Regions from separate parts of the Homo sapiens genome. Here regions 1, 3 and 4 are each reported to be linked to region 2. The links are microRNA targets in miRTarBase. Many come from high-throughput screens and were not tested one by one. Region 2 holds a microRNA gene; each other region holds the end of a gene's coding sequence.
The links. The annotated mature microRNA hsa-miR-6834-5p reads GUGAGGGACUGGGAUUUGUGG and lies in region 2 at 2,723-2,743, shown strand. An mRNA with a match to its seed (bases 2 to 7 or 8) in the 3' UTR can be bound and repressed. Matches are read on the target gene's strand: a 7mer-m8 pairs with bases 2 to 8, a 7mer-A1 pairs with bases 2 to 7 and ends in A, and an 8mer does both.

Region 1: miRTarBase lists DCUN1D5 as a target of hsa-miR-6834-5p. Seed matches in the 3' UTR shown: 7mer-A1 at 1,846-1,852.
Region 3: the mRNA of SH3BP5L is a reported target of hsa-miR-6834-5p. Seed matches in the 3' UTR shown: 7mer-m8 at 5,999-6,005.
Region 4: miRTarBase lists HYOU1 as a target of hsa-miR-6834-5p. Seed matches in the 3' UTR shown: 7mer-m8 at 5,575-5,581.

The regions. Positions count from the first base shown.
Region 1 is chr11:103,055,642-103,062,743 of GRCh38, forward strand. It overlaps DCUN1D5 (defective in cullin neddylation 1 domain containing 5), which reads right to left. Exons shown (of 8, transcript NM_032299.4): 8 at 1-6,773. The coding sequence ends at 6,718. Among named protein-coding and RNA genes, the nearest start is that of DCUN1D5, 33 kb to the right of the region's middle.
Region 2 is chr6:33,287,523-33,294,638 of GRCh38, forward strand. MIR6834 (microRNA 6834) reads left to right here and starts at 2,723; the gene lies at 2,723-2,803. It overlaps WDR46 (WD repeat domain 46), which reads right to left and starts at 1,717. Exons shown (of 15, transcript NM_005452.6): 1 at 1,580-1,717; 2 at 1,282-1,491; 3 at 1,092-1,172; 4 at 836-948; 5 at 626-713; 6 at 443-504; 7 at 92-196. The coding sequence starts at 1,648. PFDN6 (prefoldin subunit 6) reads left to right here and starts at 2,079. Exons shown (of 4, transcript NM_001185181.3): 1 at 2,079-2,398; 2 at 2,652-2,722; 3 at 2,804-2,928; 4 at 3,194-3,411. The coding sequence starts at 2,335. The coding sequence ends at 3,323. RGL2 (ral guanine nucleotide dissociation stimulator like 2) reads right to left here. Exons shown (of 18, transcript NM_004761.5): 12 at 6,512-6,544; 13 at 6,273-6,394; 14 at 6,082-6,177; 15 at 5,891-6,002; 16 at 5,494-5,784; 17 at 4,908-5,022; 18 at 4,132-4,791. The coding sequence ends at 4,580. RefSeq lists enhancers at 1-243, 244-777, 1,312-1,845.
Region 3 is chr1:248,805,558-248,812,673 of GRCh38, forward strand. SH3BP5L (SH3 binding domain protein 5 like) reads right to left here. Exons shown (of 7, transcript NM_030645.3): 7 at 4,889-6,813. The coding sequence ends at 6,343. LOC124904577 (a long non-coding RNA gene) reads right to left here and starts at 1,961. Exons shown (of 2, transcript XR_007067008.1): 1 at 1,492-1,961. RefSeq lists a silencer at 6,803-6,852.
Region 4 is chr11:119,039,121-119,046,216 of GRCh38, forward strand. HYOU1 (hypoxia up-regulated 1) reads right to left here. Exons shown (of 26, transcript NM_006389.5): 25 at 6,661-6,711; 26 at 5,068-6,534. The coding sequence ends at 6,473. It overlaps HYOU1-AS1 (HYOU1 antisense RNA 1), which reads left to right and starts at 5,068. Exons shown (of 2, transcript NR_186315.1): 1 at 5,068-5,625; 2 at 6,265-6,373.

The DNA of each region.
Region 1 (7,102 bases), not on the chromosome of region 2:
TCTATTTGAAAAATCACAAAAGTTGGCCTTGAATTTCATCGATCATATGTCTTCAATTAAGTTCTATCCTCTGGCTACACTTACTCTCTAAGTGGTTTCATCCATGTCCTGACTTAAAATAAGATTACACACTGATGACTTCCAAATATATTTATCTCCAGCCCAGACCTCTACTTTTCCAGGTTCAAATATCCAACTGCCCACTCTACATTTTCCTTTGGACGTCTGACAGACAAGTCTACCATAACATATCCAAAAGTAAACTCTCAATCTACCCGCTTAAGCCTGCTCCTCTGAGTCTTCGCCATCTTATTAATGCCCACTTCATTCTTCAAGCCAAAAACCTTGATCATTCTTTTTTTCATACCTCACATCCATTCTATCAGCATATCCTTTTGGTGCTACCACCAAAATACATTCAGAATCTGACCACTTATTATTTCCATTACTCTTAATCTCAAATTGTACCATTTGTCACCTGGATTTACCATATTATCTTCCTACTACTACCTGCTTCCATCCTTGCTTTGATCTGAATCCTAATTGCTTGCTAGCTCACTCAGTAAAGTCCTACTCTTGAGAAAGGGCTATAATGCCCTACGTAATTACCTACAATCAGGCAGGATTATTACTCCCAATCTCTCTCAGTTCATTTTCTAATTCTCCCTAAAATGCTATTATTGTTCACTACAGTCACACTGATCTCTTTACTGTTTCTTTACACTCTGTACCAGCTCAGGGCCTTAGCATGTAATATTCCTTCTGCCTGGAATGCTCTCCTCCCAGATATCCACACTGCACAACCATTCACCTCCTCAGGCCTCTGCTCAATGTCACATATCAGTGTACATGCTACTTAATAGTAATCCTATCCTCACACACTCTCTGGGCCCCTTCCTCAACTTACTTTCCCCATATAACCTTGTCACCAAATGATAAACTATTTTACTAACCAATTAAAATAAAAATCCCATAAAGGTTCGAAATTACTGTCTTGCTTCGTGCCCTGCAATATATTCAGGCCTAGAATACTTCTTGGCATATAGTAGATGCTTGAGATTTGTTAAATTAATGATTTAGTCTAAGGAGAATATTAATAATTTTGTTTGATTATAAAAATGGCAGGATAACACAGGAAATCCTAGCTATTTCTTTTTATAAAAGACAGTAAATTTGTCAGAAAAAAATAAACTATCATAACTAACCACTTCTTGTTCAAGTAACAAGACGCATTCATTTAACACCTACTAAGTGCTGTGGATAGGGCCTATTTGAACTTCGTAACAATACTGGTAGGTATCATTATCGCCATTTTACAGAAGAAACTGAAAATGACATAGGTTAAGTGGCTTGTTTAAAAGTGACATTAACAGGAATGTCACAAAAAGAAAATCAAACTCAGGTTTCTCAGATAATACTTCTATAAACTCTCTCTCAATAGGCATAGTTTCAGGGAATAATGTAAATTTCAAATAGGTAAGATTTCTACATTTGTAGATAAAAGTAACTGTGTATGAACTTGCTCTAAGCCATTTTATTTGCATGACAGAATAGTAAAGTATATAAACTAACTTCACTTAAGTCAATACTCACAAGTTAATTCTGCTAAGTTTGATAAGTTAGTTTAAGTCTCAAATGACAAGTTGCTCAAATAAAGTTAGTTTTTCCTCTTTCATGGTTCAAAGGCAATTGTTAGCAACAGCAAATTTTTTTTTGACCTTCAAAATATGTGAGGAGCTTTTATCTGTGATCTATTTTCTATGTGAAAAAGTTAATTATTTCCCAGGAGTGGTGGCTCACACCTGTAATCCCAGCACTTTGGGAGTCTGAGGTGGGTGGGATCACTTGAGGGCAGGAGTTTGAGACCAGCCTGGCCAACATGGTGAAATCCCATCTTTACTAAAACAAACAAAAAAAAAAATACAAAACTTAGCTGGGCATGGTGGCAGGCATCTGTAATCCCAGCTACTTGGGAGGTTGACGCACGAGAATCTCTTGAACCCAGGAGGTCGAGGCTGCAGTGAGCTGAGACCGCACCACTGCACTCCATCCTGGGTGACAGAGTAAGACCCTGTCTCCAAAAAAAAAAAGGGAAAAGTTAATTATGGCTAATATTCTACACAAAACACACACAGCTCACAGAGTTTTGGGGAAATCTGGCTCTCTCTATATATTCACTTCAAGTATTTATTAGCTTTTTAAAATCCACAATTTTAACCTCATACTTAAAACCAAACCCATGAAGTATGTGGAAAAAATTCATTAATATCTTAAAGCTCAGAAAGCCAAAAACACCCCAGAAGGATAAAACTTCTAAAAAATGATATAATTTGGGGGAAAGCTAAGACATTTTTAATAAAACGTTTGCTATTAACTCCCATTTATGGACCATAGAGCCAAAAATAAATGCAACAAAGCTCCAATAAAATTGGCATTATAAGACAAGATTCAATACTTAGGTTAAAATCTAACCTTACTATATAGTGTTACTAGATGTATTTTAAGGAATATTTAACACATGGTAAATCAGAAACCATGTAAAAATGAGCCATATTATAAGAGGTTCTAATACATGACACAGCATACACAGCAAAATGTTTCATCGATCCTAAAAAGAAAATGGTCACACCAATAACAACTGGTCAGGAAAAGGAGCAAAGGAAACACTATCTGTACTAATAGAATGTAAAAGATTGTAAGGTGGACACAGCAAATGTATGATCGATCAGTTTTAAGACTGTTTTTAAAAACATAAATAAATTGTGCTTTAAAAGATCTAAAGATTTGTTCCAGTGAAGTACAAGTTCACTAGAAAAATCTCTACAATTAAATTAATGACAACTTATCCAAGGTTTGGGGCAGAAATTCATCTTTCCACAGTCTGTAAGTTTATCATAAAAATTAGACTGCTTTTTGGGCTTCCACCATACTAATCATAGGTCTATTAACAAAAAAGAACAAATCTTAAACAATAGGTTTACCTGGTTCTTACCAAATATTCCTGAAGTAATAAAACTATATCATTAAAAAAAGATATAATCCAGAATATTTAATAATTCAGACTAGCCTTTCCTATTGAGGAAGTTAATGAAATTGTTATTCCTCTTTCTCCTGAAAAAAAAATGATCCTTTCTTTGAAATGTTTCCTTGTGATGATTTCTAATGTCACTCAAAAAGTGGTATTTCCTCAAGAGGGAAGGATTCCTCCTTAGAGGTAAGAATTCTTCTTTAGGAGTAAGACTTTTGGGTTTTTTTGGGGGGGGTTTTAATTTTATTTTTTATTTTTGGCCTTTTGCTTTAACAAAGAAAGGCATTTAGTTTTCCTTTTTTTTTTTTATTAAAATGCCCTCAATTTATTTGATGCCTTAGACATTTAAAACATTAAGCTGTAAGAGCCTTGAAGGCCAGAACAAAGTTTTATCAGAGATGAATTATCACAATAGTTTTAAGTACACTTCTTTAAGAGGGCAGAAGAACAACACCTGGCATTCTTACCAATTACACCTCAAACTGAACATATATTTCAATAAATCCTTTCATAATTTCACATTAGCAAGTAGGCAGACAGGACATGTTTTGTTGAAGAAATACTTCAAAGTGAAATGTTTCATTTTATACGTATGTATCATGTATTCTGAATCTGTGCTATTCCACATACCTTGTATGCCTTGAAAACTCTGGAGTTATCTCAGAATTTACTCCCACCCCGACCCCGAGTGATGGCATTCAATATTAAGATATAATTTTTGGTTTGCTAGATGAAAAGGCATTTGTATTTAAGAGAAATACTCCTCAATCTAACATTCCCAAAGAAGGCTTCAAATTGCAGTTCAAGAAACACTAATCTAGAGTGCTTCTGAGTAAAAACCAATAAAATCTATACATTATACACAAAAATGCTACTACTGTCAAAAATGTATTATATCAATAATTTTATCAGCAGCATTTAAGAAATAAGAAATCATTAGACAATAGAAGACAAACATGGTAATGCAGTCAGGCCAGCACACAATACACCGTTTTCATCACACACTGTCACCTGAATCCCTGGCAATTTCCTAGAGGTATTAACATCATACCTTATTAAGAATTATTGGCCCCGAGGAGTGGGGGGGTGGGGGGGTTGCAATCTGTCCAATCAACATCTGGCTCTACTTTCTCCCAGTAGTATTACATTTGTATAATATTCTTATAGAAACAACTCAACTCCATGTTATAAAGCACCATACGGTATTTCATCCTGTACAAAGGGAAGTAGTTCTGAAAATTTTACAACAGGGTTCGTGGGAAGGCACTTAAAGCTAACTAGTCAAAAAAGGAACCACAACAGTTAGACTTTTTTATACTGCAGGGTCCTTAATATTGTATTGTTTATATCACTTAACATTTTTGATCATAAATTTCCCAGTAAATTAAATGCTATTCAAAATTAACAAAGGAAAGACAGGAAGGGACACAGCCCACACCCTGACTGATGAATTAGGCAGAGTAAATTTGCCTTCAAAGTAGGCAAATGTTATAACTTTAAGAAGGTAAGAGAAATAGATGGAGCAATAGAGTAAAGCAAGCGTGGCCTCAGTGGTACTGGACTCCAAAGTATGGCTAGGGTAGGATAGGACAGTTGACTTTAAGGGAAAAAATAAAGTAAATTTCATTTTCAGACTCAAAAAGTCTTAAAGGTATCTTTGGATAAGTATGCAAAGTAAATACTGTTGACCCTTGAACAGCATGAGTTTGAACTGTGTGGGTCTGCTTATACGCAGATTTTTTTAAACCAAACATGGATTGAAAATACAGTATTCCCGGGATGCGACACCTACATACACGGGGAGGGCTGACTTTTTATACAGGCAGGTTCCACAGGGATGACTGTAGGACTTAAGTATGCACAGATTTGGGTATACACAAGGGTCCTGGTATCAATCTCCTGCGTATACCAAGGATGCCTGTGCTTTCATAAATATACCTTTTAAAAAACATGTCATCTATAAGCTTTAAGTGTTCCCTATTTTACTCAAATACTGAAGATGAAAAAGATATTACCATTAGTTCAGGTTACAAATGGACAATTTATAAGATTTTGCTTATATGTTTTGGAATTTAACAAAAGTGGATATGTTCTTCAGTTCAGATGTGCCTTGAAGAGTCAACTAAATTATAAATTTAAAGGTCTACAAATCTAAATGCTTTCCTTATAATAAATTTGATATTAAAACATCATTCATAATATTAAATCCTAACACCACTGGTATGCTCAGTTCATAACTCAGTGATTCTAATACTTAAGAGGAGCATTCTGTATTATCCTTTTCTATAAGACATTTAGGAAAACTGTCTCCCACTATTATGGGTGTTTCAGAAAACTGTACAAAGTAATCTTATTAAGAAGGCAAGTAAAACAGTGGCAATCATTTTTTTCCCAGCTGATTAACTAAAAAGCAAACAATAAAACACTTTAAAATGTCATTCTCTTAGGTAATCAATATGGAGAAATCATTCTTTAAACAAATTCACCACTGAAAAATCAACCTTTACCTTAAATCCTAATAGAAACACTCCCTTATTATGGAAAAATAACCTCTTTACTTCTCTCTACTCAAACAATGACACTAGAAATGTTTCTGAAGTTGTGACTGGGCTATGAATATGAACAAAGTTTTCATATCACTGGGATACTGGATGGTTTGAAAAGGAATGTACAAACAGGCCTGCTGCTAGTACAAAAGTGCCTTTTACATGAATTAGGAAAGCCTTCCCTTTCCTCAAGACACTTGATTACCAACAGGCAGAAAATTGTGATAATTAGCAAGCTGCAATACTACCAACGTAAATGGCTCTATTGAGTTGTGCACAATTAATTATACCCAGAGTTCTCTCATGATTCCTTATTCTATTGTCTTCTTTTCCTATGTGTATCTTAATTAAATCCATATCACAGCTAACGTTCTCTTAAGGCAAAAAAAAAAAAAAAAAGTGCTTTAAACAAAATTCCCTATATAATGACAGTTAAAAATATAAATATGCTATTATCAACAATAATAATGATGATACAACTTAATAATACAACTTTTTTAGAAAACAAAACAACTGGACATAATCTTTCCAATTCTAAGCTCTCTGAGATAAGACATCTGCATAAGACCTTGGCAGCTTTTATAGAAACCCAGAGCTAAAAGTAGGAGCATTTTTCCAATACCTAGAAATGTTTATTAGCTGCATCAGCAAATCATTATCCCAGAAGTCAAGGCCAACAGTCTTCCAAATTGTGCAGAGATGACTATAATGAGCCATACCATCAGCAGACTATGTTGCCAAATATTAAGACTGTTTAAAATCTTGAAAATTCTGTAAATTCACGGTGAATTGGAACCTCAAAAATCAAAAAATTCAAATTTACAAAAATAAATACCACTCTGACACTCAAGGGACATCTTCACTTTAAGGCCTTTGTCACAAATCTGAATCTTTATTGTTCTGAAATAAATGTTATAAACATAACTCAAAACAAAAACTTCAATATTCAGTCTAAGAAGAGGTGTGGCTCAATGCCCATCACATGTAACAAGAAAAACCTCCTTTAAAAAAAGGAAAAAAAAGTACTATGAGAAGTCTTTCATATGAATGAAAATGCACCCGTTGGATTTTTTTCCCCCTCATCACATTAGCTTGTATACACGTGGGAATTGAAAGGTTTGCATTTTCTTCACATAGTTCTTGCTATGATGTCTGACGGACTTTTTGCCACTCAACAAATTCATCAAGAAGAACAGGCCCTAGAAAAAAAGAAACCATTTTTGTCAGAATTCAGTGAACTCATCTCTCCAATTATAAAACAAACTCCCCACGAGCTCTGCAATGACAGAGGAATGACCCTTCCTTTCTTTGGGTGTTCTGCTTCTAGACACCTTATTCCATTTAATGGTGCTTTCTTATTAGCCTTTTCTTTTTTGCCCTTAAAGACACAAGGAACAATGGTATCTATAGCAACTTCCTTCTCAAGGTGTTTCATGAACCCTCCAGTAACTGAGTCAATACAAATCTCTCCCTTTTTCTAAGTGTCCATAGCATTCTGGCATTTAATTATGAAACAATCTGAAAAGTG
Region 2 (7,116 bases):
TGGTTCAATTGGGAAATGAGGTCACAGGCTATCATTCAATCAGGAATGGACTATCTCACCCCAACTGACCGCTGACAGTGAGGCCACTGACCGGATGTCCCGCACCGCCTCCATGACGTTGATCTCGCACATAAGCTTCTTTGTTACCCAATCAAGGGCAGCCACATGACCTCGGCGCCCTCCAAAAGCCAGGTGTCTGTTGGAGGTGAGGGGCAGGCAGGGTGTTAAGGCAGGGGACCACCGACTCAGACAACTTGAGGTCTGCCCCACGCCAGCCCCATCTCTCCAGGCGGGCAGACACATGTTGCTGTAGGTGCTTACCCTCACACCCAAGCAAATCGAAGGACCCTCCCCTCATCAGCAACCCAAACATACACTGGGAATGGCTGAAGTGGTTAAGGAAACACATCTTAGTTCAAGAGTCACTAGAATTCAACCTTACCTTCCAGTTCGAGAGTAGTTTAGTCTGTAGGGTCCAAACTGCCGCAGATTCAAGTCAAAGTGCTGGGAAAGAGAAGAGTGAAAAAAAAGAGTGCCCTGCAGTAACGCCTTCTTCTAGCCCCCATTCCTCTATTGTCCTGCACCACCAATCAATCCCTTGGCTCCTTTACCTCCTCAGGCTCACCTTGGCTGCACTTGCAATGTCCACAGCCTCCACAATGTCAGCCTGGCATATCTTTGCTGTGTCTTCCCCATCCTCCCCTTCCAGAAACCTGAAAGCAAGGGTTAGGATGGCAGTAAAGCTTCCCAATATGAAGCAAGTATACCAACATAAAAACGAGAAAAGACAGTCCCAAAAGGCAGGGAATGGGGGTCCAGATTAGGGCTCACTCACCCAGGTTCTTCAGCAAGCAGCAGCTCAGAACGAGCAGCTTTGATACTTGTTTCCTCTTCCTCAGCTTCAGCCACCTCAAGTCGGCTTCGAGTTTTGGCTTTAGAATGTGGTAGCTGTAACATTGTTGGTGGGGAGGAGTGGCAGAAGAACCACAGGATAAGTGGGGTCACAGGAGAGCTACCTGTCCCAGCCTCCATCCAACTCACCCAGACACTCCCTGCCTCCAGCACTTCCCAACTCTCCGGCTGGACCTCACCTTTCGGGATTTGTCAATGCGACAGAACTTCTGGACCACTTCCACAGGGACGGGGGCGGGGCCTGGGAATGGATCTTGGGTCTAGGGGAAAGGAGGACGCAATTAGCAGACAGCCTTGGATTGACCCCAACCCTCTCACTCTCAAGGAACGAGGCGGCCTGCCTCGCCACCCATCAGGTCCCACGCTCACCCCGGACAAGCCGCGCTGGGACTCCGGGTTCTTCCATTCTCGGGGTTTCTTCGGGACCTGAGGCTTCTTAGAGATCCGAGACTTCTTTAAGATGTAAGCATTTTTTGGTCTCTGAGGACGGAGCTCCCGATTCTTCTTGTTACGAGGAGGCCCTGGAGAGGCTCCGGCTGTGGTCGGAACGGTCTCTTCCTCCCAGTATCGCCGCGGTTTCTACAGGCACATCAGGAACTCCGCACTCACGCCCCGCCCCCCGACCCCACAGCTAAAAACTTCGTTTCCCACCCAGGGAGGCCTCTACCTTTCTCTTGGTCTGAAGTTTGTCTTTCTTGGGCGGGACATCCTTGCCCGGCTTGGGGGCTGTCTCCATCTCGCCCACCCGAACGGCGATCCACGTGCAAAACTCCTCTCAGCTGCCACACAGTCGGCTTGAAAACTCCCGGAAGCCCTCTGTCCTTCATCCAATCAGCAGCGTACCAGGTATGAAGCTCTCTAGGTGCCATCTTGAGTGAGGGCACGCTCTCCTTAGAGGGGCGGAACAGTTTTTGGCACCTTATCGCGAGCGGCAGCTTATGCAAGAGTGATTTAAAAAAGAAAGGCAGGTCCGGAGCCAGGGGCTAAGTAGCGGTGCGGTTTCTTTTTCTGGATTAGTTTCCCCATCTTGCCTAAAAATGTCCTAGTCTAGTCTTTTTAGCAGAACTCCACTCCCTAAACATGTCAGAACTACACTTCCCATCAAGGGTCAGAAAGAAACTTCCGGCACAGTCTTTTCCCAGCATTCCTTGTTTACTTCCGGGTTTATTACTACTGAAGGAAGAACGTGAGTAGGTTAGGATTTCGGTTGAGAGGCTTGGGGTCTTGCGTTTCGCCCACCATCTCCTGGGGACAGGGTGGAGTCGATATCCGGGACGGGGGGGAGGTTGCGGTGCCCCTCAGGGCTACCTCTCAAGAGTGCTATCATTTCCGCAGGCCAGATCAGAAAAGGGAGCTCAGGTACCTTCCAGAGAGTGAGACCCAGCGCCCTTGTCTCGCACCCAGTAGGCTTTCATCCCCGCCATGGCGGAGCTGATCCAGAAGAAGCTACAGGGAGAAGTGGAGAAATATCAACAGCTACAGAAGGGTAAGGGAACAGGGTCGGTATGGTCTCGCCCAATGCACTTACAACCCAAAGCCATTACCGAGATAAGGTTTGTTGCCCCATCTGGGCCCTCGCGTGCAGAGACTTCCCCGCCTCAGTCTCAGTACTCTTCCCTGTTCACTCACCCGCTGCCCCCATCCTTTTCTGCTTCCTCAGATCCATATCCACCTGACTAGGATTGTGGGGATAGGTGGCACATTTGATGTTTCTAAATTGCCTTTCCTCTCATCCCCAGACTTAAGTAAATCCATGTCGGGGAGGCAGAAACTTGAAGCACAACTAACAGAAAATAATATCGTGAAAGAGGTGAGGGACTGGGATTTGTGGGGCGAGGAGGGACCTGTACTAGCCATGGTTCTGATCACATATGTCCCATCCCTCCATCAGGAACTGGCCCTGCTGGATGGGTCCAACGTGGTCTTTAAACTTCTGGGTCCGGTGCTAGTCAAACAGGAGCTGGGGGAGGCTCGGGCCACAGTAGGGAAGAGGCTGGACTATATCACAGCTGAAATGTGAGTTTTTATTCCACCACCGTGTGCTGCACCCTGTGATGCAAGTGAACCATTGGAGTAGAGGTGTTGAACCATTGCAGAACAGCTCTCCATAGTGGCCCCTAGTCCTCCAGTTCCTCCAACCCTTTCCTTCCCTTTTAACCCCCCTTCTTCTCCCTCCCCTGGATCTCAAGTTTTCCACCTATCTCTTTCTTGCGTTTAGCACTCTCCATAGTGAGTCCTACTAATTTCTCCCTTTCTGCTTGTCTCCCTTGTCTCTCCTTAGTAAGCGATACGAATCCCAGCTTCGGGATCTTGAGCGGCAGTCAGAGCAACAGAGGGAGACCCTTGCTCAGCTGCAGCAGGAGTTCCAGCGGGCCCAGGCAGCAAAGGCAGGGGCTCCTGGCAAGGCCTGACCCCATGGTGGGGGGAGGGGAGGGGAGGGGAGGGAATGAGGCAGCTCTAGGATCTATACTGTAGCTAATAAAATGTAAAAACACCTGGCTCTGTTTCCTGACCAGGCACTTCTGTCATATCCCCACAGCCCCTTCCACCTTAACACACACCACCTGTATTACCCCCTCAGGTTCAAACTCTTGCACTTGGAATCTCTTTGTGGCACAGTGTTCTTTCTTGAAAGTGAAATCCTAAATGTCTTCAAACCTACTTCTTGCCTGTATATACAACCCTTAACTCTCCCTCATCTTGGTTGGCATGATTCTTTTGGAAGGGCATTTGCAACATACCATATTGCTAGGAATGTCGGTTTAATTGAAAAAGAATACACAGTTCTCTAACCTGAGGCCCCAGGATGAAATGTGGTTACCCTCCTTGCCAACAGCCCTGGCATCTCTATTAGTACTTTTCAGCCTCTGTCTTCCTAGAATTTGCTTGAATGTAGCTTTAAACTGACTTAAAATCCCAGCATGTAATGCTTTATGGTATTATAAGTCCTCCCAAGTTTATATGTTGTCCATAAAGTTGTTCTGCCATTTCCTTGTCCTAAAATTGTTTTATACACATTTGCAGCAAGGGACCAGTGGTAGAGAGGTTACTGGAGAGAAACTGTTCTGAGGAAACTTTTTTCACCAATACCTCACTTTTTGCTCTGTTCATGGGGACAGAAAACATTGTGCCCCTTCCTGTTCCATGGCATCTACCTTCAGCCAATTCCCCACCCCCACTCATAGCAGCCAGTTCATATGTACTGCAAGGACAGGGGAGTAGAATTCAGGTAGTGTTTTGGTTTATTATCTTAGTGTTGTCACAGTGATAGAAACCCCCAGAGTGGGAAGAAGAGCTCCTGCGAGGACCTACATTTTGCCATTCCCCTCTGCCCTGGGGCTCAGAGCCTTGAAGCCTTTGCTTGGCCCTTGCATGTTAGGATATGGCCAAGAATCAGAAACTGATGCGTTTTTCCAGCACTACCTGTGTGCTGCACTCATGGAAGGTGGGAAGCTATACACAGGTATCCAACTTGGTTATAAGACACCAGTTCCCACAGGGCTGGATTTCTCAGCTGTCTGGTAAACCAGTGGCACTTCACTGCCCCAGGGTGGCTGGCTCCCTTTCTGAATTTCTGTCTCAATGTGATATAATTGCCACCATTCAGGATGGCTACCCACATCTGGTATGAACACCATGACTTCTGTAAGCCAACGGGGCTTCCTCCTCAGAACAGTGCCCGTGCAATCTTCCTCCCTGTGGCCTTGATCCTGGGAAAGGAGCCCCCTCCTCCCTCACTCGGAGGAGTTCCTGAGGCAGACGGGCCACTGGTGACGCCAGGTGTAGCAGTAGAGGACCTTCGCCGCTGCCGCAGGAGGAAATCGTGTGAAGCTCCATCCATGGCGTAGAATACATTAGCCGAGGCTGGGATAGTCAGCTCTGAAGGTTCAGGGGATGGATGTAAAGCACACACACAGTTGTTCCCCCCACAGCCGCCCAGATGTGGAAGTACTCCACTCTCCTCCCGAGTCTGCCTTTCCCTCATGGCCTCTGACCTCGCTCCCCTGGTAGCAGCTGTACCAGCTCATACTCTGAAGCCACTGCAGAGTCACGATTGTTTTTCTTAAGGACACGACTGATGACACTTGGAGCCTTGTCCTGGCTTGTCACCTGGCAGAACAGGAGACCAAAAGAGCAATCAATCAGCCATGATTTCCCATCCTTCTACCCTCAGCCACTGAACCCAACCACAAAATGTTACTTGTGTCCAAGGCTTTAAAATGAACAGGAAAACCCAATATGGTGGCTTCCTATACCCCATAAGCCAGCCCACATGGTGCCCAGTGAAACAGAGCTGCTTCCCTGTGGGGAAACTGCTGTTGATTCTGAAATTTTAACACGGCGACCAAAAGTTTAAGGTGTAGCAACTAATGCAAAATAGCCATCAAAATAAAACAAATTTCAGCTTCTATTGAAGACTAGAGTTTAGAAGATAAAATTAAAAATAAAACATAACTGCCAAAACCAAAGGTCAAAATTAAAACTACATTCAATTCCATTTGGCTGCCCAAACCTCAGACAACATTTATAGTCCAACAAGACACCATCCTTCACCCCAACTCCATCCCAAGGCTCCCTCACCAAAATGCTCTTATAGACACTGCCATCTTCCCCCAACTCCATCTGGACTCGGATGATACGGCAATCAGAGGCCCCTGGCCCAGATCCCTCTCCCCCATATCCAGTCCCCCCGGAGGCCTCTTCTGCACCCCCACTCAGCGGGGAGCCACAGGAGGCTGAGCGGCGGTGACCTCGAGAAGGCCTAGGGGAGGAGGCTGGTGGGGAGAGGTGGCTGGGGTCAGCTGGACTGTGCAGGGATGGACTGCTTTCCAAGGCAGAGTCTAGTGACGAGACAGATGGCCACTTCATGTGCTAGGAACAAACAACATGGGACTGGCATGAAGGCAGGGAGGTTTAAGGAAGAAACATTTACAGAGTGAGGGTCAGCGTCAAGGTCAGAGTCAGGAGCAGAGCTCACCTGGGCCAGCCGAGTCAGCAGAGGAGCAGGAGTTGTAGGCGCCTCATCTCCCCCAGTACTGGGCCGGTCACAGGACACAAGCGGGGTAGGGACCCCAACAGAGCCCAAAACCCTGCAGTGGCAGGAGATTGGGAGGATCAGAGAAAAGTGGAAGTCCCAAGAAACCACCCCCCAGCCAGTGAATCTCTCACTCTGTCCACTGCGAGATGACCAATGTTGGCCGAAGCACCCGTGGGGCAGGAGGGTCACTGGAACCAGGTGGCTCCACCTCACAGGATACACGATGGCTGGGTTAGGGGGGCAATAGGCAGAGCTCAGGACATGACACCAATCCCCCACACCTGGCCAGAACCCTGGAGTCCCAACCTCACCCGCCAGTCACCTCTGAGCCTCTGTCAGTGGCCGGAGCCCCTGTAGCCACCTCTGGATATCATGGTCAGGTTGGAGGTTATAGCCACGACATTCATTCTGGAGCCGTCGCAACTCAGAAAGGACTGCAAACTCCTGGGAAGGAGCCCTCAAACTGCAGGAGCCAAAACTCAGGGACCCCTGACTTTTCCCCCTCCCCTTCCTGGAACATGGATAGGGAAGTCCAGCATCCAGCCCAGACACTCCGCTCACCTTCCTCCGCTTGTCAAAATTGATGTATCCATTCTGCGAGGAAAATGGGGATGGGGTGAAAGTTCCAACCCTACCTTCCGGCCACAGAGAGAGAATATCCCCTCTCTTAAACACACACAGCCACATCCAACTCACAACCACTTCCCTCCAGCCTCTCTGACTCTTCGATCCCTCCCTGCCTTCCTCCTCAATCTATCATGGCCTAAGCACTCCACTTGACCCTTTAAATTGAATTTCTCAGGTAGACAACGAGTCTGCTTTGCAGATGAGAGGACTGGATAGTATCCAATTCGACAGGATTCCTTATCCAGAGAGGATAAGGAACTTGTCCAAGGTCTCAGTATTTGTTTATTTAACAAACTCTAGCAATAGAGCAGGAGCCCATCACAAAACCTAGATGTGCTTACGTTTCAGGCACGTTCTAAGCACTTGACAAATACAAATTCATTTAACCCTTATAACAGATCAATGTAGATGCTATTTCTAGTTTCCCATTTACAGATCACTGAGGCGACTTGGCACAGAAACAGATCTGGCTCTGTCCCACACTCAGCTATTTGTGCCTTACAGCCCCTTGCAAGGGGCGGGGGGGTCTGTCCGACCCT
Region 3 (7,116 bases), not on the chromosome of region 2:
CTGTCCACACTTCCGGCAGATTGGAACACTGAGGCCCAGAGGAGCTGAGTGAATTGTCCCTGTGCACATAACCCCTTGTGGCAGGGGCAGGCCAAGGGCAACCCTCTCTGAATAGTGTGGTCAGTGTTTTTAACACCGAAGCTCTCAAAAGAACTAATGTTTACTGAGCACCTAGAATGAGGGTGACCATATGTCCTAGATCACCCAAGTCAGTCCCAGGCCACACCTGCCCCCTTTCACACTCAGCTGTCCCAATTTAGACTATGCATCACGTATGGTCCCTGTACATATGTCTATTGTGTTATGTGTTGAGTGAGATGGAGTCAAGGATGATACTGACCCCTTCTTCTGAGGACTTAGGACCAACAAGAGACATGTCTACAACAACCGGCCCATTCTTCAGTAAGTCAAAAGAGCCATGGGGAACTTGAGAGTGATAAGGATTAATTCAGACTGGGCTAGAGAGGTGCCTGTGGTTGAATCCCAGCTCATGTGGACTTTTGACCACATGATCTGGTCCTCAAACCACAGGCAGCAGTTTGACAGTTTGAGAAGGGAGGAAACTTGTGCCAAGGGTAGCACAAGCAGAAGTAAGTCAGTAGACAGCTGTTTGGTGAAAATTTCCACATTCCAGGTCCTGAGAACACCAAGATGGGTGAGACACAGGCCCTGGGAGCTCAAGACAGATTTGGGAAGAGTGAGGATTGGGAGCCAGGCACCACTTCTCCAGTCTGAGACCAAGGGGCTGGTTCAGAGCTTCGGAGAGCAATGCCCAGCTGTAACCTCCCAGATTTTTCCTTGACTGCAGCCCTCATTAGTTATTTATTTACTTATTTTTAGAAATAGGTTGTCCCTCTGTCACCCATTCTGAAATAGTGGTGTGATCATAGCTCACTGCAGCCTCAAACTCCTGGGCTCAGGAGATCCTCCCACTAGCCTCAGGAGTAGCTAGGACTACAGGTGCATGCCATCACGCATTGCTAATTTTTTTACTTTTTGTAGAGTCGGGTTCTCACTATGATGCTGAGGCTGGCCTCAAACTTGGTCCTCAAGTGAGCCTCCCACCTTGGCCTTCCAAAGCATTGGGATTACAGCTGTGAGCCATTGCTCCTGGCCTGGTTATGTATTTTTCACTGCCCTGCACCACCTGTGCACACCTGCATTCCTTACCTGGAAGACCCACCCATGGCATTACAGTTTATAGTGTTCCTAACAAGGCCTACCACAGTGTTTGTACACTGAAAGATCCTGGTGAACATTTCTTAGTAAACTACACATATCCATTTGCCAGCCAGTGTATGGTCTCCTGGTTCCCTTATCCCAGGGCATGAGCAATGTGTTGCAGCCTGGGGCTCAGGAATGGTGAGCAGGCGTGGGTGGAGAAATTTATAAAGAGGCTGTGGAAAGGGAGAGGGAAAAGACACTAGGGAGGCCAAGGAAGGAGGTGAGCTCTGAGGAGAACAGGGTACATCTACATATCGAACATCTTACCTCCTGAGACCAGCTGCGCTGCAGACTTGAGCCAGCTCTCACACGCAATAGGTGATTCCGAGGACACACGGGAATGCAAGAGGCCCATGACAAGTACAAATAGGGTTCCATTCTGATGTATACACACCCCCACCCTTCTATGTGCAGTTTTTCAGGCCCTTCTGCAAAGTGCCCATGAGGCTGACCACGCAGGCTTGGAGGGTCAACACGCAGTGCGCGCAGGGAAATGCAGAGCCCAGGCTCTGCGCACTTTCTGGTAGCTGCTGCCCCCTGCTGACACAGCAAGACCTTGACAGCCCAAGAAGGTCATCTCCGCTCTTCCTGCCAGGCAGAGTAGGAGCATCTACAGATGGGTTGATTCCACACCCCACAAATACGTACAATTACAATATGTCAATTTTAAAAGATGTCTAAAGGCTGGAAGCATAACCAGGCATGGTGGCTCATGCCTGTAATCCCAGCAATTTGGGAGGCCGAGGTAGGGGGATCGTTTGAGCCCAGGAGTTTAAGACCACCCTGGGCAACACAGGGAAACCCCGCCTCCAAAATAATCCAAAAATTAGCTGGGCATGGTGGGACACACCTGTAGTCCCAGCTACTTGGTAGGCTGAGGTGGGAGGATCTCTTGAGCCGAGAAGGTCGAGGTTGCAGTGAGCCAAGATCACATCACTGCACTCCAGCCTGGGCTAGAACGAGTGTCACAAAAACAAACAAAAAAAAAGGCAAAGAGCAGTGGTTCAAGCCTGTAATCCCAGCACTTTAGGTCAAGGAGGGAGGACTGCTTAAGTCCAAGAGTTCAAAACCATTTTGGGCAACACTGCAATACATCTCTACAGAGAAAAAAAAAATTAAGTTAAAAATTAGCGGGGTATGGTGGTGTGCATCTGTGGTCGTAGCTACTAGGGAAGCTGAGACAGAAAGATTGCTCGAGCCCAGGAGTCCCACGCCGCAGTGAGTTATGATTGCACCACTGCACTCCAGTCTGAGCAACAGCGCAAAACCCTGTCTCATAATAAAATAAATATTAAAAATTAAATTTTTAAAAAGGCAGTGGGGTTGTCATGCTTGTCAAAAATCATATCCAGATGAGGAGGGAAACACAACCCTTTCATAGAGTCCACTTGCCTAGCGCAAGATGGGATGAAGCCTCCGTGAGTTAAGCACTCCGAGGCTGTGAAGAGGTGCTAACAGGAATCGCTGCACCTCAGATCCACTGATGTAGCAGCATGCCACACATGCCTCTATGCTCCCATTTTATAGGCGATAAAATTGAAGCGTCATGAAATTTGAGAATTCCCATAGAGATGTGATCCTGGGATTGTGCATCACCAGGTCCTGACCTCCAAACTGCTGTACTGATAAACCCACCTGATACAGCTGTGGGCTAAGAGAAGGGGCAAGAAGCAAAAGCACATTTCCTGAGCATCTGTTGGTGAGAGCCTGTGTCAGGTGTTGGGTAGACTGAGGCCCCAGCCCCACACTTGAGGAAGATGAAGATCAGAACAATTCATTACCAACAGGCCAATGTAACATGTAACATGACACAGTACAGGAATGGGGGATGGGGCCCTATGTCCCCCACACCTTGACCATCTCTTCCTCACCTTAAACAAAATTTCTCGACCCTCTTTGCTGGGAGAAGGAGCTAAGAAACAGTATTCCCACTTCTCATCTCTTCTTCCCAGCAAAACTTCCTCGGAGATGACTACCTCCACTTCCTCACCTCCTGTTCCTGTGAGCCCAGTGGTTCAAGCGTTTGGACTCTAGAGTCCAAGTGCCTAGTGGGAGCCGCCTCCGTTACCTTCAGCAAGGCTGAGTACCCCCCATTGTGCCTTATTTTCTTACCGTGGAAAGGAAATCATAGTGTTTATCTGTCCTATAACATTGTTGTAGAGATTAATTAGGGGCGTTCCTGGTACGTGAAATGCACTGGATGAGTACAAGTTACTACAACGAGGGTGGGAGGGAGGGAGCTCTTCGGCTTCTGTCTTCTTCTCCTTAGAAGTACCATTGGCTCTAACCTTCCTGGTCTCTCTTCCCGCCTGCCGCATCTTCTAGGTGATTTTGCAAGGAGAAACGCACGTGCATGGCATAGCCCTTCTTTTCTAGGGCTCTTCTGTACCAGGAGCCTCACAGGTCCTGCCTGCCAGTGACTGGGTAGGGAAGTCCAGCACTGTGTGTCATCTCAGAAAGCCCTTCATTAGGACTATAATACTGTATTATAGACTGAAAATTTGCTGAGAGTAGATTTTAGGCGGTTTCACAACAAAAAAGGGGGGAGGTAACTGCAAAATGATAGGCCAATTTGATACCTATTTCATTATGTGCATCAAAATACCATGTTGTTCACCTCCTATACATACAATTTAAAAAATTTAAAAAGCCCACTCACCCAAAAACATATGCTATGCATTTTCATAGCAGCTTTTCTAGTAATAAAATATTATGACACCCATCTGCCAAGTCAGGGAAGGCAATCTCAAACTCCTGGACAGCACCCATCCAAAGGCACAGTGAGTGCTCAGCACATAGCGGCCCCAGATGGCCCCTCAGATGGCGTCCACAGCCACCAGGGTCACTGCTCTGATTGCGTGCCTCCAATTCTTGGCCTTCACCCTGCCCCTTGACCCCAAGGTTTCTGGTCTTCCTCCCTGCCAGCACCTTCTTCTTCCCTTGGCTGACCTCTTCTCAACAAAACTCCAAATACTGGTACACTCCAAGTGCAGCTCAGGCTAAACAAAGCCTTTTGCTCTTCTTCAAAGCTCCTGGAGTTCACATCCCTATCCAATCTCCCACCTGTGAGTTCAAGTGCCCTCAAACCCCTCCCATCCCCCAGCCAGTCAAGCCCTGACTTGGAAGTCACCTTTTATCTAGGTTTTAATTTCAGAGAAACAACGGATAATTCATAATGTAAGTACATCCTAAACACTGCAGCAGACAAAAATACTGCCTATCTGAAATTTCAGTGGGTTCACTGTATTGATAAATCTGGCATCACTACTTGTGTCCCTTCTCTACATTCATGCTCACATCCAGACACATCTAAGATCCCAACCCTCTGGCACTCTCATCTCTTAGCTCAGACAGAGCCCACTCCACCCCGCAGGCCCCTTTCTACCAAACCCTCTCCTGGCACCCATCACCTCACACAGCATGGCCCCATGAGGCACCAACTCCTCCCCTGCTTCTCTACACTTGCCCTGTACATGACCACCCTGGCCATGGGGCCTTCCACCCCCGCAAGAGCATGCATAGCGCAGCTCACTCAATCTGGTCCTTCACCTCCCTTCCCTGACCACACCATCTAAAAAGCCTGCCGCCTAACCCTGCTCTTCCCTTGCCCAACCCTTGCCTCATCTTTGCCCCTTTTCTCTTCCTCCAGCAAGGACAGTAGATGTTAACTGTTACATAAACTACTTTATTTAAATAAAACCAGGAAAGACCCTTTCCCCCTTACACACCAGCACATGCACACACGCACACCCACACCCTCCCTCCCTTTCGGCTGTCTGCCCATGGCCACCTCAAACCCCGAGGTTCTCATTGTGACCAACCTCCCTCAACCTGTAGACCCCCGTGCAGAGTCCAGTTGCCCACGCATCCCGGTTGCTGGCAGAACATGGGCCTAGAAAAGAGCACTCCATCTTCCTGGGGTGGGTCAAAAGGAAGGACTGGTTCTCCCAAGGCACCCAGATCTGGTGTGGCTTCCCTACAAACTGGGAGCACTGCCAGGCAGCTGGAGCTGCTCCCTGCGGAGGGCAGAACTTTTCACCCCAAGCCAACCCCTCCCTGTAACAAAGGAAGTAAGAGGGTTGGCAGCCAAGCTTCAGTGTGCCCCGAGGGATCCTGCAGTAGGTATTTTCAGTTTGGGGAAGAGCAAGGGAGAGCAATTGAGCACCAAATTCCCTAACCCCGTCCTGCAGGAGGGTGCTGAGTCAGTTCAGCATCCTCTACCCAGAAAAAGTAAACACAACTGTGCAGCAAGAGTGAGGGTGGGAATGACAGGGGCCTAAGCCTTCAGGACCTCATGACTTCACCCCCAACATGGGCCCTCTTAGGGACCCACTAGCACCTTGGCAATGTTGAGGACCCAGCCCAGCGGAAACACCATACCCACAGGAGCCAGTCTGGAGTTGGTGATGCTCCCTATGTTGACAGTGGGGTTGGGTTTCTCTCCCTGACACCAGCTTCCTGCAGGCCCTGTAAGTTCTGCTTTGGGGCACACATCGCAGAGTGCCTCAGGTCATGAAAGGGAATGCTGAAGGGAAAGGTGGTGTCTTCCGGAGGCACACAGTACATCTTACAGGTTACACACGGGCAGGCTGGAGCAGGACGGGGGGCAGGGCTCAGCAGCATACCTAGGGTACCCTCCAGAGTTGCCTTGGGAAGGGGGGCGGGGCTGGAAACCAACGGGAGGGGTGACTGTCCATCCCCTCCGACGGGAGTACTCAGGCCCAGCACCCATTTTCTCTGATGAGCTTCCCAGTGCCTTCTAGACCAAGTTCCCTGAGGGAAAAAGCCAAACAGATGGAAAGAGAGGGAGCAGAAAGGGAAAGCAAAGGGTCAATGCCCTGCAGATCGTGATGAGCTGGCAGGCAGAGGCAGACAGAGCGCCGAGGGCGAGCCTTCTGAATGGGTAAGGCAAAGAGAGCCGCCTGCTGAGGGGAAGGGGGAGGCTGTGAGAACGCCAGGGCAGGCACAGAGGACTCGAACACAGCTGGCCTCTCCCAGGGAAGCACTGGAGAAGGGGACCTTCGGGAAGACGAGGCCCCAGAGGAGAGGGCGTGAGAAGACTGTGGGCCCCAACCGGCCCGTGGTGGCAGATTCAAGCCAGGAACCCTGGCCCCTCGGCTACAGGCTGACGCTGCGCTGGTGCCGACCCCCACGGGCTCCGCCGTCGCTGCCCCGGCGCCCTCCACTCCGCGTTCCCAGCTCTTGGCCGTCCAGACTGACGTGGTCCGAGAGGCCTCGCAAGTGCTCCACGGAGTCGCACTTCTGCAGGTCTGAAGCCACCGTGCGCAGGCTCAGCAGACTCAGGGTATCGGTGTCGGGGGCGGGGCCGGGCCCCAGGCTGCTGCCCTCCTCCAGCCCCGCACCCTCGGCCCCCTCAATCCCGCTGTCTCCGTCCTCCATGTCCTCGGGTCCTGCCTCGGCCCCCACGGGGGAGGAGCGCCGAGGGCCCAGGGGGTGGGGAGGCAGACCCCCGCGGCGCCGTGCGTGAATCTGCTCGCTGATCTGCTCCAGGTTACGAAGGGCCACGGAGTAGCGCGTCTTGGCCTGAGCTACCTGCTGCTCCAGTTCTGTCACCTTGGCCTTGTGCTCCTGCAGAGGGCAGAGCAGAGCAAGGCGACCCATGGGGCACGTCTCCACCTTCCTCAGCACTCTGCACTGAGGTCTGAGGGCCTGCTCTCCCAGAATACCTGGACAGCTGGCTCAGCATCCACCACAGACCCACAACAGCCTTCCCTGCTCCACTCTCAGCACCCACCACAGACCCACAACACCCTTCCCTGCTCCACTTGCTCTGCGTTGTTCCTCCCCAGCAATCCTGCTCCTGACCTGAGCCCCACCTTCCAGAGCCTTCCTCTCAGGCCTTCCTCTCCACCAGCTCCTGCTTCCTCATCC
Region 4 (7,096 bases), not on the chromosome of region 2:
GAGTGGTACAGGAGGGTATCTATGTGTCTTGTTCCGATAGCTCTCTTGAGTAATTTCTTGTCTGGAAGCCCAGTTGGCATCATCTTGACTTCTACCTGGTGGTTTTGGATTAATTGGTCGTGACTCCCCCTAAACAGGAGGATTCGGTAGCTGAAGGGGTGGGTTGCTCCTCCACACCTGTGGGTGTTCCTTGTTAGGTGGAACGAGAGACTTGGAAAAGAAAGAGACACAGACAAAGTACAGAGAAAGAAATCGGGGGACCAGGGGACCGGCGCTCAGCATATGGAGGATCCCGCCGGCCTCTGAGTTCCCTTAGTATTTATTGATCATTATTGGGTGTTTCTCGGAGAGGGGGATGTGGCAGGATCATAAGATAATAGTGGAGAGAAGGTCAGCAGGTAAACACGTGAACAAAGTTCTCTGCATCATAAACAAGGTAAAGAATTAAGTGCTGTGCTTTAGATATGTATACACATAAACATCTCAATGCCTTACAGAGCAGTATTGCTGCCCGCATGTCCCACCTGCAGCCCTAAGGCAGTTTCCCCCTATCTCAGTAGATGGAATATACAATCGGGTTTTACATCGAGACATTCCATTGCCCAGGGACGAGCAGGAGACAGATGCCTTCCTCTTGTCTCAACTGCAACGAGGCGTTCCTTCCTCTTTTACTAATCCTCCTCAGCACAGACCCTTTACGGGTGTCGGGCTGGGGGACGGTCAGGTCTTTCCCTTCCCACGAGGCCATATCTCAGGCTATCACATGGGGAGAAACCTTGGACAGTACCTGGCTTTCCTAGGCAGGGGTCCCTGCGGCCTTCCGCAGTGTTTTGTGTCCCTGGGTACTTGAGATTCCTTCAAGCATTTGTTTAGCAAAGCACATCTTGCACAGCCCTTAATCCATTTAACCCTGAGTTGACACAGCACATGTCTCAGGGAGCACAGGGTTGGGGGTGGGGTTACAGATTAAAATGGAGTCTCTTATGTCTACTTTCTATACAGACACATTACCAATCTGATCTCTCTTTCTTTTCCCCACAGGTAGCTGGGTCTTTATTCCTGGCTTGTTTCAAAATTAGCCCCTGGCTGAACAGGATGGCTCATGCTTGTAATCCCAACACTGGGAGGCACAGGCAGGAGGATTTTTTTTTTTTTTTTGAGATGGAGTCTTGCTCTGTCACCCAGGCTGGAGTGCAGTGAGTGATCTCCGCTTGCTGCAAGCTCCGCCTCCCGAGTTCATGCCATTCTCCTGCCTCACCTTCCCAAGTAGCTGGGACTACAGGCACCTGCCACCATGCCCGGCTAATTTTTTTGTATTTTTAGTAGAGATGGGGTTTCACCGTGTTAGACAGGATGGTCTCGATCTCCTGACCTGGTGATCTGCCTGCCTCGGCCTCCCAAAGTGCTAGGATTTCAGGCATGAGCCACTGCGCCCAGCCCCACTACGCCCAGCTATTTTTTGTATTTTTAGTAGAAATGGGGTTTTGCCATGTTGGCCAGGCTGGTCTTGACCTGAGGTATCCTGACTGGGATTACAGGCGTGAGCCACTGGGCCTGGCTATTTGTTTTTTTTGAGAGAAGTCTTGCTCTTATCCCCCAGGTTTGAGTGCAATGGCTTGATCTCCACTCACTGCAACCTCTGCCTCCCAGGTTCAAATGATTCTCCTGCCTCTGCTTCCCAAATAGCTGGGATTAAATCGCCTGCCACCAAGCCCGGCTAATTTTTGTATTTTTTAGTAGAGACTGGGTTTCACCATGTTGGCCAGGCTGGTCTCGAACTGCTGACTTCAGGTGATCCGCCCGCCTCGGCCTCCCAAAGTGCTGGGATTACAGGTGTGAGCCACTGCGCCCGGCCGGGCCTGGCTATTTTTTATTTTTATTTTTGAGGCAGAGTCTCGCTCTGTTGCCCAGGCTGGAGTGCAGTGGCATGACCTCAGCTCACTGCAACTTCTGCCTCCTGGGTTCAAGTAATTCTCAAGCCTCAGCCTCCTAAGTAGCTGGGACTACGGGCACACACCACCACACCCGGCTAATTTTTTGTATTTTAGTAGACATGGTGTTTCGCCATGTTGCCCAGGGTGGTCTCAAACTTCAGAGCTCAGGCAATCCACTCACCTCGGCTTCCCAAAGTGCTAGGATTACAGATGTGAGCCACCATCCCTGGCCAAAATAAATATTTTAAAAATATTTGGTAGAATTCACCAGTGAAGCCATCTAGTCCCGATTTTTTTTTTTTTTTTTTTTTTTTTTTGAGACGGAGTCTTGCTCTGTTGCCAGGTTGGAGTGCCGTGGCCCAGTCTTGGCGCACTGCAACCTCTGTCTCCTGGGTTCAAGTGATTCTCCTTCCTCGGCCTCCTGAGTAGCTGGGATTACAGGTGCCCACCACCACGCCAAGCTAATTTTTGTATTTTTAGTACAGACAGGGTTTCACTGTGTTAGCCAGGCTAGTCTCAAACTTCTGACCTTGTGATCTGCCTGCCTCAGCCTCCCAAGGTGCTGGGATTACTAGCCCGAGCCACCGTGCCTGCCCCCCACCTCCCCACCCTTTTTTTTTTTGAGACAGAGTTTCGCTCTTGTCGCCCAGGCTGGTCTCAAACTGTTGACTTCAGGTGATCCGCCTGCCTCGGCCGCCCAAAGTGTTGGGATTACAGGCTTGAGGCAAGGCGCGCCGGGCCTTTTTTTTTTTTTTTTGAGTCGGGGTCTCTCCCTCCCAGGCTGCAGTGCAGTGGTGCGATCATAATCTACTGCAGCTTTGAACTCCTAGTTTCAAGTGATCCTCCTGCCTCTGCCTCCTGAGTAGCTAGGACTACTATTTTTTGTAGAGATGAGGTCTGGCTATGTTGTCTCAAACTCCTGGCCTCAAGCGATCCTTCCACTCCTGCCTCCCCAAACACTGGTATTACAGCCATGAGTCACTGCACTTAGCTTCGCCTTTTTTTTTTAGAGCACTTTTAGGTTCACAGCAAAATTGAGGGGAAAATACAGAGTTCCCGTATATTCCCTTCCTCCATACACTCACAGCTTCCCCCATAATAAACACTTCACACCAGAGGTCTACAGGTGTTACATCTGAGGAACCTACACTGACTCATCATATTTGCCCAAAGTCTACACTTTCAGTTGTCTTGGTGTTGCACATTCTATAGGTTTTGACAAATGTATATGTACCCACCATTATGGTGTCATACAGAACTTTGGGTGATTGTAACAAATGTACCACTCTGGGGGAGATTGAGTATGTGGGGACAGGAGGTATATGGCAACTCTGTACCTCCTGCTCAATTCTGCTGTGAATCTGAAACTGTCTAAAAGTCATCCAAAAAAAAAAAAACAAAAACCCAAAACTTCCACATTCAAAACTTATCTGACTTGTTCAACTTTTAGAGAAAAAAGACAACCCTTCGTGGTTATTTTTTTTGTGTGTGACAGAGTCTAGCTGTCGCCCAGGCTGGAGTGCAGTGGCACGATCTCAGCTCACTGCAACCTCATCCTCCCGGGTTCAATTGATTTTCCTGTCTCAGCCTCCTGAGTAGCTGGGACTACAGGCGGGTGCCACCATGTCCGGCTGATTTTTTGTATTTTTAGTAGAGACGGAGTTTCACTGTGTTAGCCAGGATGGTCTCGGATCTCCTGACCTCATGATCCGCCTGCCTTGGCCTCCCAAAGTGCTAGGACTACAGGCGTGAGCTACTACACCCGGCTGGGCCTTCATGGTTATTAAATGTAAATACAACGGGGCCAAGCTCAGTGGCTCATACCTGTAATCCCAGCACTTTGGGAGGCCAAGGCAAGCAGATCATTTGAGTCCAGGAGTTCAAGACCAGCCTGAGCAACATAGTGAAACCCCGTCTCGACCAGAAAATACAAAAATTAGCCAGGTAGTCCCTGCTACAGGGCTGAGGTGGGAGGATTGCTTGAGCCTGGGAGGTCGCGGCTGCAGTGGGCCAAGATGGCACCATTGCACTCCAGCCTGGGTGACAGAGCAACACCCTGTATACCGTATACAACTGCTTAGATATGTACATGATTAGTGACAAGAGGGATCCTCCCTTGGTAATAGAAAATTTGGGCTAGGCATGCTGCATCCCAAACTGATGAACCGAAACTGCTACAAATGGTCTCTACCAACACATTCCCACGGCTAAGTACGAAGAACAAGGGCGAATGGTCAGAATTAAGCTCAAACCTAGCTGAAGCACTCAACATTGATTCATTCCTTGGACCAATTACTTGCTAAATCTCTATGAACTGGTATCTTATTTGTACAATGAGGTTGCTATTTTAAAAATTAATGTTACCAGCTGGGCCCAGTGGCTCAGGCCTGTAAACCCAGCACTTTGGGAGCCCAAGGCAGGTGGATCGCTTCAGGTCAGTTCCAGACCAGCTTAGCCAACATGGTGAAACCCCGTCTCTACTAAAATACAAAAAAAATTTAGCTGGGTATGGTGGCAGGTGCCTGTAATCCCAGCTACTCAGGAGGCTGGGGCAGTAGAATCACTTGAACCCGGGAGGCGGAGGTTGCAGTGAGCCTGGATCGCATTACTATACTCCAGCCTGGGCAACAGAGCAGGACCCAGTCTCAAAGAAAAAAAAAAAAAAAAAGTACGTTACTTAAAAATGCCTGGGATATAGGAGTCCAAATAATGTTAGCAGTAAAATAAAACCAGTATTTTGTTTCCTTGAAAAAAATACATATACAAATCTCAACTAAGTCCAAAGTGTCAATAACATTTTGATGATGTAATTATTCAAACTTTTTGAGGTTTTCACTGTCACACATGCTGGAGTGCAGTGGCACGATCATAGCTCACTGAAGCCTCGAAGTCCTGGGCCCAAGGGACCCACCCTCCAGCCTCAGTCTCCCAAGTAGCTGGGTCTACAGGCACACATCCCCACACTCAGATACTTTTTTTTTTTTTTTTTGAGACAGAGTCTTGCTGTTGCCCAGGCTGGTCCGACCTCAAGCTATCCTCCCATCTTGGCCTCCCAAAATGTTAAGATGACAGGTATGAGCCACCATGCCTGGCCCAAAATTTTTCTATTTTTAAAAACTCACAGCACAAAAACTGTAGAAAAGAATATTTTATTGAAACAGTTTCTCAATTAACAATGGAGCAAAGTACAATTTGACTCAAACCTGTCCAACCAGCATCAACAGCTACTGAAAGAATTCAAACATACAGAAGAGGTGGGGGTGGGGTGAGGGGTGGGACCCTTAGGTCCCATCTCTGCCAATGTGGCAAAAAAAAAAAAAAAAGGAAAAGACAAAATGACTGACACAGCCAGGTTCATTCTTGTCTTGGAGCTGAGGCAGCAGCCCTAGCTCCTGCTACAGACGGAATACTGGAGGACGGGCTCCCTAGGCGTAGGTATGGTGGGTCGGGGGCCCCCAACCTAGCAGAGTGATGCACAGAGGAAGGCCAGCCCTGACCCTCCTCCTTCATCCACAGGCCTGCCTCAGAGAGAGGGAGGTGGCATCTCTACATTCACACCATGGTCTCTCCTTTCCCCAGGATCTTGGGATAGGGACTCACAGTAGAAAGCACATTTTGGTCAGCCCAGGGGGTCAGGGGGTGAGGGAAAGGCTCTGTCTGGGAGGAGCAGAACAGCAGAAGAGAGGAGGAGGCAGGGAGTTACAGGAACCTGGGGTACCAGGCTGCTGGGAAGATGCAGATTATGACAGAGCTTGCACGATGCTGGCACCCCATGCCAACCACTCTACGTGGCTTTCCTCTTCGGAGAGGTGGTGGGCTCCCTTCTTCACTGTGCCCCTCCCTCCTCTGGCCACTAGGGGTGGGAAATACGAGTGAGAATCCTTCCAGATTTACTTCCGCCAATCCAGAGGTACAGGCTTTTAGGCAAGGGGCAGAGAACTGCCCAATTTGCTGCAGGAAGCCAAGGAAACCCAGGGGGAAAGGAGCTGGATGGGAATGGGGAAGGGAGGCTCAGAGCAAGAGAAGCCCGCAGAGGGAGGAAAGAGCACAGATAGGCACTCAGAAACCAAACCTGGTAACTGAGGCTCTGCAGACACTGGCCTGAAAGGATGCTCATCGCATGGTGGGAGAGGAAGGGAGGGAAGGAACAATCACCAGAGAAGAGTGGAAACTCCCCAGCAACCTGATACCCTTCCCATCACCGGGACCCATCAGCCACTGGCAGCCATTCTCTTCCTACCCACAGGCAAAGGATTCAGAAATTAATAGTGATTTTTCCCAAATTTAGGGCCTATATGGGTAGGGAACAGGGAGTGGGGCTGGGGAGGAGAACAGTTTCCATTTTTAACCACAGAGGTACTGCAGAAGGAACCAGTGAGCTGTCCCTCCCTTCCCCTTCTCCACACCTCCAAATCACAGGGGTGAGAAAGGAACTCCAGCCGAGGGCAGGACCAACCCCTCCCCCAACCCTCGATGTTAAATAAATAGAAGTGGTGGGGGAAGGGGGTGGAGATGAATGGGGAAAACAGAGGTGGGGGTTATAGTTCGTCGTTCTTCAAAGGCCGCTTCTGTCCTGTCGATTGTTCTTTCTGTTCAGGTTCTGTTGGGAGTTTGGGGGAGCAAAGGAATCACCGCAGGTGAAACAGAGGAACCAACCCCAGTTCTTTGCAAAGGATTTCCTGAGACCCCACCAGGCTTCCCACCGTAGCCCCGGCTCCATCCTCACCTGCTCCAGGACCTCCTAACTCCAAAGGCTCAGTGTCTCCTGGCTCGGATCCTGCTTTGGGAAGAAACAGGTTAGTCTCCTCAGAAGGGAGGAAGAGGCTAAGGGAAGGCTGGGCCAGTTTTTCCATGAAGAGCCAGCTAGTAAATATTTTAGGATGCATGTACCACATTTGGTCTCTTTGCCTACTCTGTTTTTTGAGACAGAGTCTCTGTTGCCCAGGCTGGAGTGCAGAGTGCAGTGGCGCCATCTTGGCTTACTGCAACCTCTGCCTCCCAGGTTCAAGTGTTCTCCTGCCTCAGCCTCCTGAGTAGCTGGGATTAAAGGTGTGCGCCACCACGCCTGACTCTTTTTTTTGGTATTTTTTTAGTAAAGATGGGGTTTCACCATGTTGGCCAGGCTGGTCTCGAACTCCTGACCTCAGGTGATCTACCCGCCT